Linked DNA regions of Homo sapiens: regions 1, 2 and 4 are each linked to region 3. The links come from fine-mapping of genetic effects on plasma protein levels. A gene starts in region 3. Each other region holds a variant in brackets. All regions are shown on one strand. Distances are from middle to middle. Region 1 overlaps FBLN2 (fibulin 2). Region 2 has its middle 31 kb from the start of FBLN2. Region 3 holds the start of FBLN2 (fibulin 2). Region 4 overlaps FBLN2 (fibulin 2).

The links. PIP is the chance, under the fine-mapping model, that this variant and not a neighbour inherited with it causes the effect. The UK Biobank Pharma Proteomics Project read protein levels with antibody pairs (Olink). The fine-mapping took linkage between variants from a reference panel, not from the people measured, so its PIPs are less certain.
Region 1: its variant is fine-mapped to the plasma level of the FBLN2 protein (UK Biobank, PIP above 0.99).
Region 2: its variant is fine-mapped to the plasma level of the FBLN2 protein (UK Biobank, PIP above 0.99).
Region 4: its variant is fine-mapped to the plasma level of the FBLN2 protein (UK Biobank, PIP 0.96). The variant lies in the coding sequence of FBLN2. If it changes the protein, the assay may bind it differently, which can mimic a change of level.

What each region holds. Positions count from the first base shown.
Region 1 is chr3:13,636,649-13,641,770 of GRCh38, forward strand. FBLN2 (fibulin 2) reads left to right here. Exons shown (of 18, transcript NM_001004019.2): 18 at 914-1,756. The coding sequence ends at 1,271. Among named protein-coding and RNA genes, the nearest start is that of LINC00620, 12 kb to the right of the region's middle. The variant C/T (reference allele first, on the strand shown) is at 1,681.
Region 2 is chr3:13,515,107-13,520,248 of GRCh38, forward strand. No RefSeq gene overlaps it. Among named protein-coding and RNA genes, the nearest start is that of FBLN2, 31 kb to the right of the region's middle. RefSeq lists enhancers at 864-1,792, 3,166-4,055. The variant C/T (reference allele first, on the strand shown) is at 2,449.
Region 3 is chr3:13,546,461-13,551,602 of GRCh38, forward strand. It overlaps FBLN2 (fibulin 2), which reads left to right and starts at 2,665. Exons shown (of 18, transcript NM_001004019.2): 1 at 2,665-2,748. RefSeq lists enhancers at 4,028-4,636, 4,637-5,142.
Region 4 is chr3:13,569,557-13,574,698 of GRCh38, forward strand. It overlaps FBLN2 (fibulin 2), which reads left to right. Exons shown (of 18, transcript NM_001004019.2): 2 at 759-2,105. The coding sequence starts at 800. Among named protein-coding and RNA genes, the nearest start is that of FBLN2, 23 kb to the left of the region's middle. RefSeq lists enhancers at 1-308, 1,913-2,629. The variant A/G (reference allele first, on the strand shown) is at 2,008.

The sequences.
Region 1 (5,122 bases), 90 kb after region 3:
GCCTGCCTTGATCACCTCCCTCTCGTCCCAGCCCCTGACTGCTGGGTCTGTGGGCTAGGTGACCAAAACAAATATAAGTAGCTTTTAGAGAGTTCAGGGTTGAGAGAAGGAAGGGGAAAAGACACACAGAAAACACCAGCCCTCTTCCTCATACACACACATGGTAGTTACTGCTGTGTGACCAGTTATCCCAACCAACATTTAGCACCAGAATACAACAGATACTTACTCTTTGTCACGCAGTGTCTGAGGGCTAGGAGCCTGGGAGTGGTGTAGCTAGGTGGTCTGGCTCAGGATCTCAGGGGCTGCCTGTCCGGGGTGCGGGATCCTGCCACTGCTCATGGGGCTCTGGGCAGGAGGCCTCAGCTCCGCATCACATGAGCCCCTCCACAAGGCTGCTTGTGACATGCCACTCCCCAGCTCAGTGTATCAGAAGTGCCAGCGGCAGCCCCTTAACCTCACTTAACCTCAGAACTGACAGACCGCTACTCTGCCACCAGCCACACGGCCCGGCACTTGGGAGGGACCCTGGGAGGGACACTGGGTGCACTGGGAAGAAGGGAGAAGGAGGAGGAAGGGAAGGGGAGAGGGAAAAGGAAGGAGAAAGGAAGAATGGGAGGATGGCAGGAGGGAGGAAGAAAGGAGCATGGGGACAGGTAAGAGCTGTTAACGAGCCTGGCCAGTGCCATGCTAAACTCACCCATTCCAGTGAGCCGGTGAAGGTTTTATTAACCTCATCTCGCAGGCAAGGAAACTGAGACCCAGGGGACGTAAGGGGACTTGCCTGAGGCTTCCCGGCCATTAGGGAGAGAGCTGGCCCTTGATCCTGCCGCTGAGCTGTGCCATCTGTGTCCCCGTCTGGGGATGAGGGGGGTGGGCGAGCTGTGGGTGACCCGGCCTATCCTCCCTGCAGGAAGTGCGAGCGCACCACGTGCCATGACTTCCTGGAGTGCCAGAACTCGCCAGCGCGCATCACGCACTACCAGCTCAACTTCCAGACGGGCCTCCTGGTGCCTGCGCATATCTTCCGCATTGGCCCCGCGCCAGCCTTCACGGGGGACACCATCGCCCTGAACATCATCAAGGGCAATGAGGAGGGCTACTTTGGCACGCGCAGGCTCAATGCCTACACGGGTGTGGTCTACCTGCAGCGGGCCGTGCTGGAGCCCCGGGACTTTGCCCTGGACGTGGAGATGAAGCTCTGGAGGCAGGGCTCCGTCACCACCTTCCTGGCCAAGATGCACATCTTCTTCACCACCTTTGCCCTGTGAGGTGCCAGCACGGGCCACCTGCGGGTGTGGCGCAGCCCAGGGCTCACACTGCGTGGGAGGGACTGGGTCACTATTGTGGTTTTTACTATAACTTTGTAAATTAACTTAATTTTGCTGACTTGACTCCTGTGGCTTCTGGACCCCTCCTCTGCCCCGCAGGAGGAAGTTCCACGGCAGGTGGTGCGTTCCCACGCAGGCACCAAGTGGAAGCTTGCACGGTGGGCCACGGCCGTGGCGGGTGCCCTGTGGGTGAGGCTGGGTGATGACCTGAGGACCAGAGACACGCGACCATGTTGGGGCTCTTGGACTCCTCTGGATGACCCGTCCCCAAAGTTGACATTCCATTTCATGTTCCACTGTGATTAATTCTTTTCTTTTTTAAAAAATCATTTTAAAGTTTTTTGTTTAA[C/T]TATAAAGTAGTACATGTACATTATATAAAAAAAAGTTCAACTAGTATGAAAGGGTTATAAAGTAACAGAGGAAAACGCCTCTTGGTCCCTTTACTTTTGTAAAGTGTTCAGAGTTTGACAACGTTGTCCAGATGTCACAGGGCTCTATGGCCTGGCCAGCATGTCAATTCATTGATGAAGACCTTGATGTCCTTCTCAACGAGCCCCGAACCTGAAGTTCACTTTGGGATGAGGGCACCCCAGTGTGATCAGTCACTGACCAGGCTCTTTATTCTGCTTTTACCACTTCAGCTTTCCCTCCTCCTTCCTCCTCCCTCCTCCCTCCTCTGCCTTCCCCCCATGAAGACCTCCACTGATGGCCTGTCACTTGGATGTTGTCCAGAACTTGTCCTGGCCCCTGTTGCTGAGCTGTCAGGTCAGGCAGTAGACCTGGGCAGGAGCCTGAAGGAACCTGGGAAACTGAGGCCCTGAGAGCGGAAGCGATGTGCCCCCAGCCCACAGCGAGCATCAGAGCAGGTGTCGGGACCCAGCTCTGATGACCCTGCTCGGGCTCCGTGGGTCTAGAGTTAAATATAGGGGGCGGCAGCCAGCACTTTTAAAATGACGTAGAATAGAGCAGATGAGATATGAGTGCTTCACACCCTGTAAAGAGAAGAACTGCTTCACCAAACCACAGTACATGGGGCGTGTGCACCTATGCGTGGGCACGCTAGCTCTGGCTTTTGGTAGAAAGTGTTTCTCACTGTGGGTGGAGGGAAGCAGGCCTGTCGGGGCGCGCTGGGCAGCACATGCCCTGTGTGAAGGGGGCGCCTACACTTGGCTCCAGCAAGGCCGCCTTCTGGGCGCGTGGCCCGGGATGGCCAGATGTTCTCATTCCTCAACACAAACTCTCTCAGTGTTAAGAGGTGGCGACTTGCTCAGGCTTCTAAAGGACAGGTGTTTGGGAGCCTCTTGCCGGAAGCCTGCGGTGGGGGCCCTCTGTCCCTGCTCCTCGCCGGCCCCCATCCCCAAGGGTGCAGCAGAAGCCAGGTCTTCCCTGTCCCTGTCCGGGCTGTCTCTGTTCCTTCTATTTTGCTGATTTTCAGAAAAACTAGATCCGGCACCTTTGTGGTGCACAGTCCCCACCAGCGGGAACCAGTAGGTGACAGGCTCCATTCAACAGGACAGGCAGGTTAGGGACACCCCTGGCTGGCAGCAGCCGTTCCTGCTCCTACCCAGCCCCGGTTACTCCTTCTGGGACCTCAGGCAAGTGACTTCGCCTCCCCTCACTGGTCTCCCCTGTGAACAGGGGCTCCAGCTGTTCTTCCTGCACAGGCCATCGAGCCAGTAAAATGAACTTGGCACCCAGCGCATCCATACGGAGGGTCTTGGAGAACAACTTCTCTCCGGACCTTAGAGTTTCTAAGGTGATTCTAGAATTCCATGCCGGCAAGTTTGGCAAACTGCAGCTTCAGGGAATAGCCCCTACAAGACTACCCTCACTGCAGACCAAGAACTGCACACCAGAAACAAGCTCAGGCATCCCTAGGACCACCCTCACGTCTGAGCAATGGGCTACAGGTTTGGGGGTCCTTACATCCACCCTCAGGCTCATTAATTCACCTGCATGACTCAGACAGTTTATGGTGAAAGGAAGCAGGTTAAAGTCATTGATGAATTCTAGAGCAGAGTCCAGGAGAGCCCAGTCACGGAGCTCCCGTGTCCTCAGGATGCAGCACAACAGAATAGAGCTGAACAGGGCACCTTTGGGGTCCAGGTGTGTCTGGGAGCTTGACCACCTGGCTGTCAGCGTGGCTGGCCCTAAGTCTCCAGTCCCTCGCAGAGGTCAGAACTGAGGCAGCAAAGCCCCTGAAAACGCTGGTACTCCAGTGCCAGCCAGGACGTTCTGGGGGCCGAGAGCTCACCCTGCAGGCCACCCCCGGCCCCGGCCCCAGCGTTCTCGCAGTGGAATAGTCACGTTTGTCTGGGCAGCTCCTTCAGCGTTGCCTGCTTCCTCCCTTGTGGCAGGGCTGCCCGTGCCTATGAAGCATGTAAAGAACCACCGTGTGCAGGCGTTAGCCCGGGGTTGGCTCCACCTAGCTCTTCCGCAGGTGTCATTCTCCATCGTTGCTACATCCTGAGGAGGCTGGAACTCAGGGTTTCAATACATTTGCCATCACCATCAACGTTATAACCTTATCAACCGTGCCAGGTAGGACCATATTGCAGTCTGGTGGATGTCACCTAAAAAGGAAGACCGGAGTCCCACTCAGTCATAGCAGTTTATCTAGTCCATCACCACATCAGATCAGCAGATGTCCCCCAGGGTGAGGCCACTCAGGTTTGCAGGCTGCCATTCGACCTTGTCAAGTTCCAAAAGCAGAGGCGGCCTTGGCGTCACCCTTTCAGGCATCTAGTGTAGTTGAGCTGAGACGATGCCCTCCACGCCGCTCTTAAGGTAGTACTGTAATGTAGGATTCACGTAAAATTGGATTTCCCGGCCGGGCGCGGTGGCTCACGCCTGGAATCCCAGCACTTTGGGAGGCCGAGGTGGGCGGATCCCCTGAGGTTGGGAGTTAAAGACCAGCCTGACCGACATGGAGAAACCCCATCTCTACTAAAAATACAAAATTAGCTGGGTGTGGTGGCACATGCCTATAATCCCAGCTACTCAGGAGGCTGAGGCAGGAGAATTGCTTGAACCAGGGAGGCGGCGGTTGTGGTGAGCTGTGATTGTGCCATTGCACTCCAGCCTGGACAACAAGAGCGAAACTCCGTCGCAAAAAAAAAAAAAAAAAAAAAAAAAAAAGGATTTCCCTCACTACATAACCCACGTACTGGTTGCTTTACCCTCAGCTCCGGTTCCTCCTTTTCTCCATTTGTATCCAGGTATTTCCACCTTTGGAAGGGCCATGAGGTTCGGCCATGCTGTTGGGCCGGATTGTCAGAAGCAATGCCAGCCTAGCAAGTGCCTCCCTGACAGTCCACTCCGGTTGGTGTAGGATGGGGCTTCACAGGTGTAGAACTAGTGGGCTGTCTCCACCACCAGGCAATGTGCCTGCCCTCACTAGCAGCCCTGATTTTTCCGGATGGGGTGAAGGCACCATCCACTCCATCAGCCCTCAGGAGCTCTGGCATGAAGCTTTGGAGCTAGAGGTGCACCCTCCTGCCTAGGAGTCATTGCTACCTCAGCACTTGCAGCTGCAGCCCTGGTCCTGGGGCCACTGCAGCAGATAGGAAAGGAGGAAGGCGAGGTGATGTGGAGAAGAAAAGAAAAGCAGTCTTACCAGCAACCTCCCTTCCCCAGTTCTCTTAGAAAAGGCATAGGAGGCCAGGCACAGTGGCTCACGCCTGTAATCCCAACACTTTGGGAGGCCAAGGCGGGTGGATCACTTGAGGTCAGGAGTTCGAGACCAGCCTGGCCAATATGGTGAAACCCCATCTCTACTAAAAATACAAAAA
Region 2 (5,142 bases), 31 kb before region 3:
ATTTGTGTATTGATTAAAATAATTTTCTAGTAGGCACTAGTAAAGTATTTTGAAGAAGTGGAGCCTTTTTCTAATTTGCAAACAATTGCTGCAAAGGCTAGTGACCATGCCATAATCAAGACCCTGATTTTAATCCTTGAGTCCCCAGAGCTTCTCTAGCTCGATAAGTACTTGGTGTAATTTATTATTTTGGTGAATTCCCTTTGTTGTTAAGTTCTGCTCACAGCAGAACCATTGATAACTCAGACACTCACAAGATGCATCAAGCTTATTTTCTACTTTCCAGAGCAAACCCTTAGCGCTTTTAGAAATAACAGCTCAACAATAAGAGAGAGACAGAACAACCGTTAAATGCAGACATAAGAACAAGAATAACAACAAAATATCAGTTTGGGGCCATTTGTGTAGGTGCAAGTAACGTTCCCTATCTCACTGAGCACCAAGACCTTCACTGTACTGGTCTGTGGCCTGAAAATGGTTCACCATGGTAATTAACGCAGAGAAGACATTGTGTAGACTTCATGTCCTCTTAAAATAGTTAAATTATAACTGTGTTGTTGTCTAAAAGGAAAGACCAAAATTATCTAGAGAGTTCTCATCTGTGTGGCTTAAGCTAGATGAATAACGTATCATTGTAAAAGGATAGTGTCAGCCAAGGTCCAGCCCCCAGCTGTCCCCAGTGTAGGAGGTGGCCCCACTGGCAGCATCCCTGACACCACTCTGACCTGCTCAGGACAGCTCTTTCTCACTCCCCTAAATGCCAGGAGTTTCCAGAAAAAGTCTGGGGGAGGCTGTGGGCTCTGGGGTCAGACACTCTGGGGTGGGGTCCCTTTCCAGCAAGGTGACTCTCAGCAAGTGGTTCCCCGACTCGGAGCCTCGGCTACCGCTTCTCTAAAATGGCAATGGCCATACCCACCTGGGGGGCCATTGGGAGGGTCGGGCGGGCCTGGGAATGACCCAGCACACAGTAGGTGCTCAATGAGAAGCAGCTGGCACCAAGGTGGGATCTGGGTGAGTTCAGAGCCCAGGCACGAGGGCTCAGAATCTCAGCTCGGCCTTGCTGAGTGCTTGGGCGATTCACTTCGTCTCCCAGAGCCCCAGTTTCCTCAGCTCAAACTGAGATCCCCAGGGAGTTGAAACAAGCAAGCATTCTTGAGACTGTGTGTTTCCTTGCCTGTTCTTCCTGCCAGGCAGTAAAGGGGCAGGATTGGGTCTGTCCCTGACTCGACCCCCGGAACAGGGCCTGCGGTGCTTAGTAGGCGCTTGGTAAAGACTCAGTCATTTGCTCCAGTCGGGAGGGAAGTTGGCTGGTGCCTGCTGGGGGGCTCCCCCTGCCCTTCTGACTGTGGGGAGCAGGCCCAGAGCCGACTTTGGCCAGGCCGGGGTAGAGGCCTGCTTCTGCCATCCCTGGTGGGCCCCAGCGTCTCCTCTGAATCCCCACCCTGCTCCTGAGCAAGTGCTCCCATCCCCCACCCTGCTCTGGCGGCTTGGCATAGGTGGGACACCAAGCCTGGAGCTCCCGGCTGCTCCAGCCACCCGAGCCAGCCCCACAATTGTTTTTCCACCTGGAGCGTCCAAGGAGTTGCTGGCAGCCAGGCCAGGCGGGGGAGGCGGGGGGCGGTGTTGGAGGAGACATCAGTGGGCGTGGGAGGAACAGGCTTCACCCTTTCCATCCACAGGGGTACCGGTACTGGGATAAACTGGACGGCACTGGTCAGGGCCCACTTTCCTTTGACCTTAGGTGAATGACTTAACCGCCCCAGTCTCATTTACTTCATCCATAAAATGGGGATAATATTAGTAGCTGCCTCTTGGGGTTGCTGTGAGGAATAAATGCGTCAGCTCATGTAAAGCACTCAGAACCATGCCCAGAAGCAAGTGGTCTTGATGGCAGCCCTTGCTATAGGCACTCTAGGCTGGATGCGAGGGTTCTGCCGCACACAGCTGCCTGGTGTGGGCCAGCCACGTCCACTGTCTCTGCGTACCATGTGCACCCACAGCAAGCCTCCGGAGGTGACAGCCCCTCACAGAAGCTGCAGGAAGTAGAAGCGGAGTGGGTGGCAGCTCCCTCCCTTGCTTCCTCAGCTTTCTCTCCCCTTCTTTCTTCCACCAGCCTGGCAGGTGCCCCCAGAGGCAGGGGATGGGTCCCCTGACCTCGGGGAGGACCCCCAGCCCCATCAGCCGCGGAAATGGTGGACCCGCGGGCCCTGGGCTACTGCCATGCTGCAGCCCTCGGAGGAACTGAGCAGGGACAGGGCCAGCCTGGGTCACCCGATGCAGCTGCACAGATGTCAGGCCCGGCATAGCCGAGGTGTGGTCAGGCTAGGTTCCCCTGGGCCCCGCTATGGGAACAGGCTGTCCCGACAGCCTGGCTGCCATCCCTTGCTGCTGTTGTTTGGAAGATAGAGCAGTCATCAGCCCCAGCCCCCGGCAGCCCCACCCTCCCCT[C/T]GGCTTCTGCAGCTCCCAGGCCTGGGACAGTCCCTGGCTGACCCAGGTTGTGCACTGGGTGGCCTGAGGCAGGCCCTGACCCTCTGTCGGCCTCCATCTTTTACCTCTACTGAGAAACCGGGGGCGGAGCCCTCTGTCCCTGCTGCCCTTCCAACTCAAGGCCCAGGAAAAAGGACAGGAGGCACATGGTGGGGTCCGGGGCCAGGGTGCTCACATGTGCTTAGTGAGCACCAGGAGCCACCTTAGAAGGAAGGTGAGGGATCTGTAACCTTGGTCAGGACAGCCACACAGGAACTGTCTCCTGGACCCAGGAGGAGCAGCAGGACCCAGCCTTCTAGGCAGCAAGGGAAACTGAGGCAGGAGCCCAGTTATAGGGCCTAATAAACTTGATCCAGGAGGAGGCAGCTACTGCGTGGAGACTTGGGCTCCAAGGTCCTTGTGAATCCAGGGTCCAAGACCATCGACCTCCAGCCCTACCCACTGATGGGAAGGAGGCTGCCATCTTTCCCATGCCCGCTCAAGTGAGGCTCAGGCCCCAAGCATGGCAGGCTGGTTTCAGGGGCATTGAAAATGGGTCCTGGGTTCAATCCTGCCTGTGCCACTTCCTGGCTGTGTGACCTTGGGCAGGTCCTTTCTCTCTTTTTCTCCATTTCTTCTATAAAGCGGGACAGTAATGCCACCAACACAATGCCGTAGAGGTAAAGCTTGGCTGTCATGTACACCAAAGGCTTGGTCTGCAGTCTGACCTCTGTGCCTCTGTCTTCCTCCACCTCCCCTTATCCATCCAGAGGGCCCGAGGAAGGAAGCAGGCACGGGTGGGGTTTGCTCTGGCACTTGCTTCGGAGTCCTTGGATACCTCCAGGCAAGTCCTTGATGCTTTTCCCAAACGATGCCAGCCCAGGGATGGATTCTCTGCCTATGGGAACTTGGGTCCATCCCAGGAATGTAGGCCAGACGGTGGGGAGGAGAAAGTGCAGGGTGGAGGCTCGGCCAGCGTTCTACCAAGGTCTCTCGGGCACGAGGTGAAGAGTGGGCACCCGCCTGCAGAGGCAGTGCCAGGGACTGTCGGCCTGGGCTCAGCACAAATGTTGTGGCTGCCCCCCCAAGGGTTGGTGGCAGGAGGCCCGGGGAAGCCTGCAGGCGGGAGCAGATATGTTCTGCTTGGAAGGATGCTTGGGACAAAGCCAGCTCCGGGAGCTCCTCGTGTGGCTGGACACATGGGGCAATTCCTGGGCTAGGGGAGGAAGGCGGCGCCTGCTGAGGGGAGGGAGGGCATCTTGCCAGGGTTGGCAGAGTCTAGGGCCTGGGAGCTGGGACCAGGCATCAGGGCCTGGGGCCAAGGCCTTGGGAGGGCTGGCGAGACCCAGGCAGGCCCCAGCCCGTGGGCCTCGCAGACCAGGACTCTGGGTTCACTGTGCCTTGGGTGTCGCACACTCAGCCCTGAGTTGTCCTCAGGGCTGGTCCTTCCCTTCCCCGAGGCTGACCCTGGAGGGGCGGCTTCCTGGGTTGGGGGAAGCTTGGTGACAGTGCTTCGGCTGACTTTGTCTCCAGAGTCCCCTCTTCCCTCCCCAATGACTCCAGACCTCTGGGGGTGGGCGAGGCCGGGTATCCTTCCCTCCTCTGATACCCTGGCCCCAGCATTACTGGAAGTCCTGCCCCCAGGTCCTATGACACACAGGGCTGGACTGTTTGGAAGACATTCTAATGAGGACAAGAGGGAAATAAACACGGAGAGTCTGGGGAGTGGGACAATGGTGTGTGTGCGTCTGTTGGGAAGGCCTTCCTGCAGTGGTGCTGATGCTGCCGCCCGATACCCACAGGATTAGGCTGAGACTGCACTGCCCCTACCCCGAAACCCCATCTTTGCCGCTCCTGCCTCCCTGGCTGCCTGGCAGGCCTCTCCCAGCACTGCGGGAGTTCTGCCCCCATTCTCCTCCATCTCCTCTCCCAAGAGGCAGCCAGGCTGAGATTGGGGGCCCTTTCCCTCTTTGGTCCCCCGTCAGGAGGTGGGATGAGGTCCCCAAGGAGTCCCCACCCATTTGCAGCCTGAGCATTGGAGAGACTGCTGGGGCTGGGGCGGGGCCAGGGAGCTGGGCACCCACAGCGACCCCAATGGACCTCAGAGCGCCGCAGCCCCTGTCTCAGCTGCAGGAACATGGAGAGCGTGGGTGGAGCTCCATGCTAGCTTGCAAGTCCTCTAGCTCCGACAAGAATCAAGCCATCAGCTTCTCTTCCTCCTAGAGAGGTCCACTGGCTGCAGAGCCTCCAAGTGTCTGGACCCAGAGCTTCTAGCCCACCCTTGAGCAGCCCAGCAAACTCAGTGCTCTGAAAGCTCAGGGGCTTTCGGCCTGAGGAGCTATTCCAGCCCAAGAGGGCTTCCTGGAGGAAGAGACGTTTGAGCTAAGCATTCTAAGCAGAAGGAACAGCATGTACAAAAGCCCAGGGGCACGAGAGAGCAGGCCCCTTCCAGAAGTGGTGGGTGGCCATGGCTAGAAGCCTGGGAGACTGAGGACAGGGAAGAGCTTTGGTATTTTGGATGCCTTCTCCCCACTTCAGGCCTCATCTTGTTTTGGTCTTCCCCAGCCCCTGACCTGGGCCCCTCCCTGGCTCTGCTACTTGCTTGTTGTTAGTCTTGAGCCAGTTACCTTTTCTCTCTGAGTCTCAGTTTCCCTATCTGTAAAATGGGGTGGAGCC
Region 3 (5,142 bases):
CATTTAATGGAGGGCTTATGATATACCAGACACTGCTGTAAGCATCTTAACTTCAAAACAATCCTATAAGGCAGGAACTTCTTTATAGGCTAGGACACTGAGGCCAGAGGGTTGAAGCCACCTGCTGAAGGTCATACAGGGAGGATGTGGATTTAAATCAAAGCCATTGGGTCCCAGAACCCATGCTCCAACGTAGGCAGCCTCCCCAAGGCTACCCAGTGAGGATGCAGACCCAGGAAGCTCAGCAAGGCTTCTCTTCCCAATCCAGGCTGCACAGGTGGGACAAGTGAGCCTCATGCCTGCTGGCCCTGGCGCCTCAGTGCCCAGGGAGCTGGTGAGATTGTCACTGATGTAAATAACTTCGCTGCCCACTGTGATCATTCTGTCTAGGCCTTATCAGCCTGACTTCCTCCAACCATTTCTCAGCCAGGCCCTGGGCCCCAAATTCCTGGTGGGTGATGCGTGCTCTGTCTGCGATAACAGTCTTGGAAGGGCTCTGAAGGGACAGCCGCTTTGGCCGCATCTCCGGCTCAGATAACAGGACGGGAGAAGTGTCTCCACTTTATCTTGTGGAAGGCGGGCCAGGCCTTGGGCTCCCTGGGCTGCAGAGTGAGCTGCATCTGGCTCAGTGCCTCTCCTCCCAGGCCTGGGGAAGGGAGCCTCATTAGCAGCTGCCCAGGGTCTCTATCACCCCAGGCCACTGCCCCTCCTTCCCCCACAGGAGGAAGGATTCAATCTGTCATTTACTCATCAGATATTTACTGAGCACTCCCTTGGGTCAAGTCCCATCCAAAGTACAGATAATCCCTGACTTACGATGGTTCGATTTAGGATTTTTTGAATTTAGGATGTTGAGAAAGTGGTACACACCCAGGAGAAACCCTACTTGGAATCCCCAGGCAATCATTCTGTTTTTCACTTTCTGTGCAGTATTCAATGAGTTACATGAGATATTCAATGCTTCATTATAAAATAGGCTTTGTATTAGATGATTTTGCCCACCCGTAGGCTAGTAATGGAAGTGTTCTGAGCACATTTAAGGTAGGCTTGGCTGAGCTATGATGTTCTGTAGGTTAGGTGGATGAAATGCATTTTCAACTTACTATATTTTCGATTTACGATGGGTTTATGGGGACATGATCCCATTATAATCGAGGAGCATCTGTACTTTCGGTTTGGCTCATTTCGGTTCATTTGATCTTTCCAATAACATTATAAGATAGGCTTTGATGTCGTTATGTTCATTTTACAGTTGAGGAAATAAAGCCCAGAGAGGTGAAGTAACTTGCCCAAGGTCACACAGCTGGTGTGTGGTGACTTTCTTAATGACCAGGTGATCCTACCTATAGTCATTTATAAATGAATAAGAGAAATCAGCCAGTGACAAGTACTGTAATAACAGTGCGGCCGAGTCCCAGGGTGGAGAGTGGTAGTTGCTACCTCTGCTGGGGTCTCAGGGAGGGCTTCTCTGGGGGTGGTGGGATTTCAGCTGCATCTTAATGCAGGGATGAGTCAGCCACGGTGGATCTGGGGAAGAGCATCCCAGGCAGAGGGAACAGCAATGGCAAAGGCCCTGAGGGAACAGCAAGCACAGAGCTCCAATGGGGAAACGGGCCCAGAGGGAAGGCACCTGCCTGGGGTTAGACACAAGTTGGGGCAGGCCAGGCACAGGCTGCCAGCTCAGGCTTTGGCCCCTCCATCCGCTCCTGGCTTCTCTGTGGGTGGCCCCATCTAAGCCAATGGGCCCTTCCTGGCTCCACCTCCTCTCTGCTGTGCGGCCCTGGGCAGGCAGCTGCCCTGCCCTGTGCCTTTGCTCTTGGCTGCCTCACCCCTGTCCTGGGCTGCAGGGAGACCCCTGGGGGTGGGGGCAGGCACACTTTGGGCCCATGGCTGCTGCTCAGATGTGAGGTGGTGACCACCAGGCCATACGTCTCTGGACAGGGATGGGAGAGACTCAGAGAGACACAGAGACCAAGAGATAAAGTCAGAGGGAGATGCAGAGACCAAGAGGGACAAACCAAGGGAGACAGAGAGATGACATTAGATCAGAGATGGAGACCCCGAAAGAGACCCAGAAAGGGATCGGTGTGGGCTGGGGGAAGAGACACCCCGGGGGTCACACAGTGGTCACAGGCATCAGAGCTGGGCTGAGGAAAAGGACAAACTGAACCTGTTCCAAAGCTGGGGGCTCAGTACCGTCTGCCCAGGCACATGCAGCAGCAGTGGGGCTGCAGGCAGGCCCCCAGGGTAGGAAGCAAGGCGGGTGGGAGGCAGGGCCTGGCCTCTGGGCAGTTTTGTAGCCGGGCCCCTCAGGCCCTCACAATGTGCCCAAGGCTGCTGGGCCCATCTTCCAGGGGTGATCACTGAGGCTCAGGCTGGCTGAGGTGGCCGGACCCCAACCCCTGGCCCTGCCCTGTGGGCAGCAGTGCCAGGTCTGGCACTCAGAGGTTAGGCCGGGCGCAGGGAGGGTGCGGGCTCCGCAGCGAGCGCGCCGGGCGGCCTCTAGGAGCCGGGTCAGCGAGTCTGGGCTCTGAGCGAGCGGCGCCGGCCCGGCCCCCTCTCCGGCGGGCGGCCGAGACCCCGCCCCGGAGGCGGAGGCGGAGTCAGGGGAGGGGGCCGGGGGCCGGCTGGTCCCGCCTCTCGCGCCTCCGCCCCGCCCCGCGCGCACACAGCCAGGGGCCGCCCGGGCTCTCGACGCGCCGACGGCCGGGCGGACGGACGGACGGACGCCGAGCGCAGTGCCCCGCGGTGAGTGCACGCGGCCCCTCCCGCCCGGACTCATCCCCGTCGGTCCGCGCCTCGCAGCTCAGGACTCGGGGGCGCTCGGACGCACCGACGGCTCGGCGGACCCTCGGACGCGCCTCGCGGGCTGCCCGCGCCTCCACCCGCGCCGCCGGTCCGACCGGGTCTCGCTCTCCCGGTCCCAGCGCGGGGACGGCCCGCGAGCGCCGCGACCCAGTGTACAGATGCGGGCACAGAGGCCGGCGCGGGGTGGGGGCCAGGGGTCCGCGGGCGGGTTCCCCCACCCCAGGTCCGCAGCTTCCTCCGCTCTGGGTTTCACTTCTCCCCCCTGGGCCGGCTCCCACCAGTCATCCCCTCTGGTCCCACTGCCCACCCCCACCCCGACCGCAGGACCTTGCCGCCCCTCCAGTCCAGAGGGCCGGGTCAACCCCCTCGGGGAAAGAAGACTAGAGTCCCTGGTCTAACACTACCCCCTCCATCACCCCCAAGTCACACTCACCGCCACACACGCACTCACACAAGCAGAAGTTTCTGCACGCTCTGCATTGGCGCGCCCACCCTGCCTGTCACCACATCCTCCCTCTCCCAGCCCCATGCTCACCCCGCCAGCTCCCCCAGGCCAGAATCTCTCACACTCATCTCACGTCCCCTTAGCACACAATGCTCCACACACACATGCCTTGCACATTGGCACCCCTCCGAGGCATGCCTCTAGCAGACAGTTGTGTCTCTGATAAACACATGTGCCCTTACTGCCCTCTGACACGCACACACGTCCGCCACACAGGGGTAGCTATCACATGCATATCTCCATCATATGTATCACACATGTGTCTCTCACATGCGTGTGCTCCTCAAATACCTGGAATCACAAACACTGGGAGTGCCACACACTGTGAGTCTCACATACGAGTCACAGACCCCCACGACTTCACAGTCCCAGCCCCCCTGGCACTCCATGGGCAGTCCTCCCCTGTCCTAGGGGGTGGGGAGCCGATTTTGGAGGAGGGAGGTGGTTCCTCCTGACAGAGGCTGCTTACCATGGGACCTGGGTGGCTGTGGGGAGCATGGGGGTGGCTCAGCCTCAGGCTGGGCCTGACTCCTCACCTCCGTGCATCCTCTCTCCCTTCCCCTGCTCCAGTCTCCGAAATAGGGGTGCCCTCCCTCCCTTTTTTGCTGCCACAAGGAGTTGCCCATATCAGCTTTGCAGTGATCACTTGGGCCAGTCCCAAGCAGGCCTGAGCCAGCAGGCGTCCCCTGACAGGCCAAAAAGAGAAAAAGGGAAGTCAAACAGGATGGTTTGGGTGCTTGTGTCTACCCTGATGCCCCTGAGATGCTGGTCCGGGCCCTCCCAGAGGGAGCCCTGATGAATTGGGTGGCAGCTGAGAAGTGTTCCCTCAGCCTGGCATGGATTGGGAGCTGGTGTGTGTTTGTGGCTGATAGGGGCTCTGGGCCTTAACTTCCCCATATGCCAAATGGGGTGAAGACTCCCCAGCAGGAGGAAGAGAGGGAGGGGGAGCTACTCCCCTGGGGTGCACCCTTGACTTCCCGCCCTCCCCTTCTGCAGCTGAGCTGTGTGATGGGGGTGAGCAGGGGATGAAGTCAAAGAATCTTATTCTGGAGGCACAAACCTGCCAGCCCCGGCTGTGGCTGGCCCTGCATGTTTTGTTTGGCTCTCACCATGTTATTATTATTTTAAAAAATTAATTAGCTGCCTGCATTTACAAATTGGCAGTTTTCACGTAAAAGTCCGGATTTCCGTCTTCTCTTGAAAAGTCACAAGGTCTGGTAGTTCAGGATCTGCATCTCCTGGCTGGTGCTGCCCACCCCCAACCCAGGGGATGGGGCAGGGGCGCTGTTTGGTCCCCGTCCCCACCTGGCCCTCTCATGCCTTCTCAGCTCCTGCCTGGCCTGCGTGGCCTTTGTGCGGCTGTGACTGCTGCATGCATTGGGCTGATTTTGCTCCATTGCCCGCCTCAAGCATAGGCCCAGGCTGGTCCTCCATGCATGGCTGGGGAAGCCCTGGGCGGGCCTCCTACCCTTCGAGGCCTTAGTCGTTGAAGCAATGAGTGGTGCCCAGGGCCCTGGGCCACAGGGCATCTTTGTGATGGTGGCAGACACTTCCTGCTAGGCTGTGGGGGACGGTGGTATGGGGACCCCGTGAAGCAAGAGCTCATGCCAGAGAGCATTCTCCGAGGCAGGCTTTATTCATCACTTTTCTTCCCAGATCCCGACATCCCTCCTGCAGGGTGGAACTCTTGCACCTATTTAAGAGACGGGGAAGGGGAGGTAGAGAAAGGGCCTCCCAGCAGGCAAGGGGGAGAGCTGGGGTTCAGCCCAGGATCTTTTCCCTCCAAAGCAAAGCTCTTTGCCCCTCTTACTGAGCCACTAGTGGGAGGA
Region 4 (5,142 bases), 23 kb after region 3:
AGTTGGTGGGGTGTTAGGGACAGCAAGGCATCAGGATGCATTTGCCAGTGCTACTGGGGAGGGGGACAGGAGCGTCCCCTGGGGCTAAGCCTGCAGTCCCGAGGGTCTCAGAGGTGTGTTCCTGAGTCCTAGGGTCTGCGGGCTGGGGCTGTAGGGGGCGTCTTGTTCTTGCCTAGCATTTCCCCACTGACTGTATTTTCTGGCCAGCAGCTGTGGTGCGTGGCTGGGGACTGAGTCAAGGATCTGGGGGGAGGGATTGGTCGGGTGTGTGCGTGGGACTGTGCGTGTGAGACCGCCCAGGGTGTGTACTGGCACGTGGGCATGCTGTGGGTGAGACAGCGTGTGTAACTGCATAGAGGATTATGGGGCATATTGCCTGACGTGCCCTGGTGAGTGTGACCGAGTGGGTGTGGGGCTGTGCATGTGTGTGTGTGGGCACGAGGGCTCACTCAGAGGACCTGCCTCAGAATGCAGGTGAGGATGGAGGATGGAGTGGCCCAGCAAACACGTGTGGGGCTGTCAGCGACTCCAGGTCAACACCTGTGGCGCCCAGCGACTAGACACTCACCTGTGTGTGATCTGACCCATGTGTGGCGGAGCCTGTGTGTGTGTGTGAGGCAGTGCTTAGTGTGCTCCTGGGGATGAGCGCATGCGTGTGAGGTGGCTGAGGCTGGGCCCCTGCCCGCGTGCGTGCCGGTGTGCACCGTGTCTGTGTGTGCACACCCAGTACTGACAGGCTTCCTTTCTGATTCCCCCAGGGTCTTACAGGAGAGGGGACCGTCCTGGGCTGGCCTGGACCATGGTGCTGCTCTGGGAGCCTGCAGGAGCCTGGCTTGCTCTGGGCCTGGCCCTGGCCCTGGGCCCCAGCGTGGCCGCAGCTGCCCCTCGGCAGGACTGCACGGGCGTGGAGTGCCCGCCGCTGGAGAACTGCATTGAGGAGGCGCTGGAGCCGGGTGCCTGCTGTGCCACGTGTGTGCAGCAGGGCTGCGCCTGCGAGGGCTACCAGTACTATGACTGCCTACAGGGTGGCTTCGTGCGCGGCCGCGTGCCCGCCGGTCAGTCCTATTTTGTGGACTTCGGGAGCACTGAGTGCTCCTGCCCACCAGGCGGCGGCAAGATCAGCTGCCAGTTCATGCTGTGCCCGGAGCTGCCGCCCAACTGCATCGAGGCTGTAGTGGTGGCTGACAGCTGCCCACAGTGCGGCCAGGTGGGCTGCGTCCACGCGGGCCACAAGTACGCCGCTGGCCACACTGTTCACCTGCCGCCCTGCCGGGCCTGCCACTGCCCTGACGCCGGTGGAGAGCTCATCTGCTACCAGCTCCCCGGTTGCCACGGGAACTTCTCAGATGCCGAGGAGGGTGACCCCGAGCGACACTACGAAGACCCCTACAGCTATGACCAGGAGGTGGCCGAGGTGGAAGCAGCAACAGCCCTGGGGGGTGAGGTCCAGGCGGGTGCAGTCCAGGCAGGCGCAGGGGGCCCCCCAGCTGCTCTGGGAGGTGGGAGTCAGCCACTGTCCACCATCCAGGCACCCCCCTGGCCAGCTGTCCTCCCCAGGCCCACAGCGGCTGCTGCCCTGGGTCCCCCAGCCCCAGTGCAGGCCAAAGCTAGGAGAGTGACCGAGGACAGTGAGGAGGAAGAAGAGGAGGAGGAGGAGAGAGAGGAAATGGCTGTCACTGAGCAGCTGGCAGCAGGTGGCCACAGGGGGCTGGATGGGCTGCCCACTACAGCCCCAGCTGGACCCAGTCTTCCTATCCAGGAGGAGAGGGCAGAAGCTGGGGCAAGGGCAGAAGCTGGGGCAAGGCCTGAAGAGAACCTCATCCTGGATGCCCAAGCCACGTCCCGCAGCACTGGGCCGGAGGGCGTGACGCATGCACCGAGCCTGGGCAAGGCTGCTCTCGTCCCAACTCAGGCCGTGCCTGGCTCTCCCAGGGACCCAGTCAAGCCCAGCCCCCACAACATCCTGTCCACATCACTGCCTGATGCAGCCTGGATCCCACCCACCCG[A/G]GAAGTGCCCAGGAAGCCGCAAGTTCTGCCCCATTCCCACGTGGAGGAGGACACAGACCCCAACTCTGTCCATTCTATCCCCAGAAGTAGCCCTGAAGGTAAGACCCTGTCCTGGTTCCTTCAGGGCACTTTGTGTGGGAAGGGCAGCCTTGGGCTCTGGCCGCTGCCCCAGGTCTCTGCCTGGGGCTGGGGATGCTGGACTGTGGGGCCAGGCCTAGGGTGGCCACCCCAGGCCCTTGGTTTGGGCAGGAGGCTGTGAGAGTGCATCTTCTCCCAGGCCCAGCTCTTGGGATGGGATGGGTGGGTGGGAGTGGGGTTCCTGTTGTGGGAGGTGCTGGGCCCCCTGGTAGGGCTGCGGTAGTGGTCAAGGGTCCAGAAGGTGCACATCTTCAGAGCTGGGGGCCCTGAGGAGGGTTCCTGCCTCAGCCCGGTAGGCCCCCACGTGTCCTGGCAGGAAATGCGAAGGGCGGTCTCTTCTCAGCTGCCCCGGTGGCTGGCCTGTGGCCTAGGAGCCTAGCATGGCCACCTCTGCCAATTTTTCAACAAATGTCAGCCAGAAAGCTGAATTTTATGTGACATCTTCCCATTTCTAAGTGTCTGCAGCAAATCCTAATCTCACAAGCATGTGTTGTAGAAAGAAGTGAACTCGTGGACAGAGGCGAGGTGGGTGGGCCATTTGAGCAGGGGCGCTGGCCATGCTGGGCCAGTGGAGGTGGTGGGGCCACACCAGCTGTACCCTCACTCCATGGAGGCCCCTCTCCGAGCTGGTCAGGCAGCTTCCCATCAGTCCTTCCAGCAGCACCGAGTGCTTACTACTATGTACGCTGTTTCACCAGTGAGGCAACTGGGGCTCGAGGGTGGTGCTGGAGGCTCAGGTCACACAACCAGTGAGCAGTGGGCCTGGAAGGCCCTGGAGCCTGCACTCCTGACCCTATATCCTCCAAGCCACCTGCCACAGAGTTCAATACACTCCATCGGGCACATCAGAGCAGGCAGCCAGGACCAGGGCACCCAGGCTTCAGATAGGGACCGGCCCAAGGCTGTGCAGAGGCTGGTAGGCGGCCCAGGCCTCTTCTTGCCCATCCATGCCTGCTCCCAGCAGGTCCTCCATAGCCCAGCACAGTCAGACACCCCATTTGAAGACCCCATGAGCTGTGGCGAGAAGGGGAATGGTCCGCTGAGCCTACCTAAGAGCCGTCCTCAAAGGGCGCTGCTGCTAAGCAGGGGCCACAGCCCCCACGAGGCTGACCCCTTCCTGCTTACTTTAGGAGCCTTGAACTCCTGCAGGGGGTGATTCTGTCACAAGAGCTGGGGGCTTGCAGATCCAGAAGCCTGGTCTAGCTTCCATGGGGACCTGGGGTGATGCTCCTAAGACCCCACGCAGGTTTGAAACCCCCGTGGGCCAACACTGGAGAGGAGAGGCTTCAGGAGTCCTCTAGCAAACAGGTTAATCTGGGTGGATAACCCTGTGCTGCCACAGCCTAGGGAATCTGGGGGCCTCACAGACCCACAGACATTGGAAAGGCCCAGAGCTCCGTCAGTGTGAGAGGGGACAGCCCCGCACCTGGGGGGAGCGCCTCAAACACAAATCAGATCATGCCACCTTCTGCCCTATATGGCTCCCTCCGGCCGGCCCCTCCCCAGCCTCTTCTCACACCAGTCAGAGCTTCCTTTCAATCAAGTTCAATTCCCTCTGGCTAAGGGGCCTTTGCACGTGCTGTTTCCCCCGCCTGGAGCACCCCCTTCTCACCACTGCCCACTTATCACCTCATCCTCTACATTGCAGCTCAAGTGGAAGCTCAAGACTCCCTGCAGGGAGCCTTCCCTGACCCCCAGGAGGAGTCAGATCCCCTGAGTGAGGCTCACCACTTCACTCCTCAGCTCGTATCACTGCTCAGAACATCACACCTCTGTGACTGCTGGGGTCTCTATCTCCTCCTCAAAGCCCCAAGCTCCCCAAGGTCAGGGTCTCTGCTGGGTTTTGTGAACCCTGTACATTCAGCATCTTACCGGCTCCTGTGCACATGCTGGGCACTCAGAAGCCACTGTCAGAGGGTGGGCCGGGCGTGGTGGCTCACGCCTGTAATCCCAGCACTTTGGGAGGCCAAGGTGGGTGGGTCACCAGAGGTCAGGAGTTCGAGACCAGCCTGGCCAACGTGGTGAAACCTCAAATCTACTAAAAATACAAAATTAGTCTGGCGTGGTGGCAGGCGCCCGTAATCCCAGCTACTTGGGCGGCTGAGGCAGGAGAATCACCACCTGGGAGGCAGAGGTTGCAGTGAGCCAAGATTGTGCCATTGCACTCCAGCCTGGGCGACAAGAGTGAAACTCAAAAAAAAAAAAAAAAAAAAAAGGGAACCACTGTGAGAGGTTGAAGAGCTGAAGAAGGCAGAAGAGAAGCCTGCTTCCACCACTTTCTGCCCCTGTGTCCACAGGCGGTGGCCTGAGCTCCCTGTAGCCCACTCTCCACTCCTGTAAACTAAGAGGGCTGTTGTGAGGACTACGCGGCTCAGCAATCACAGAGCGCCGAGCACGGTGCCTAACAGAGTCACCGTGTTGAGGGGCGTCTGCAGTGGACAGCAGCAGTCATTTGAGTTTTAGGGTTTCCCTGTTAGCCAGAGCATCACAGCATTCAGATACTCCTGCCCTGCAGAACCTGCGTGTGTGAGGCCCTGAGGAAGGGGCCCCTTTCCTGCCATGCATTCCTGGGGCCACAGGCTGTGCTGAGAGGCCTTCTGCAGGTCAGGGGCTGCCCCCAGCTGCTCTGGGAACCTCCGACCTCCTGAGGGCCGCCCTGCCCGAGGGTTCCTCCGTGTGGCCCTCCATTGTGCCAGCCCTGCGGGAAAAGCCGCCCTCACGAAGCCCCTTGAGTGACAACAGACGTCAGACCCCTTCTTCCCAGCCCAGGGAGCCGGGCATGTGGCTTCCATTAGGCCACATCTGGACATGCTCAGAGGCAGGGATGGCCTGGCCGAGGCAGTCTGGATCCCTGGCAGGGCTCCAGCTCAAAGACAGGACCCCCAGCCCAGCCAGGCCTGGGGCACTGGCTGGAAACCCCTTCTCTAGGCCCCAGGGCTGCCATGGCAACGCGGCTGGAGGGGTCACTTCTGGCCCCATTACCTCCCTTTCTGCAGG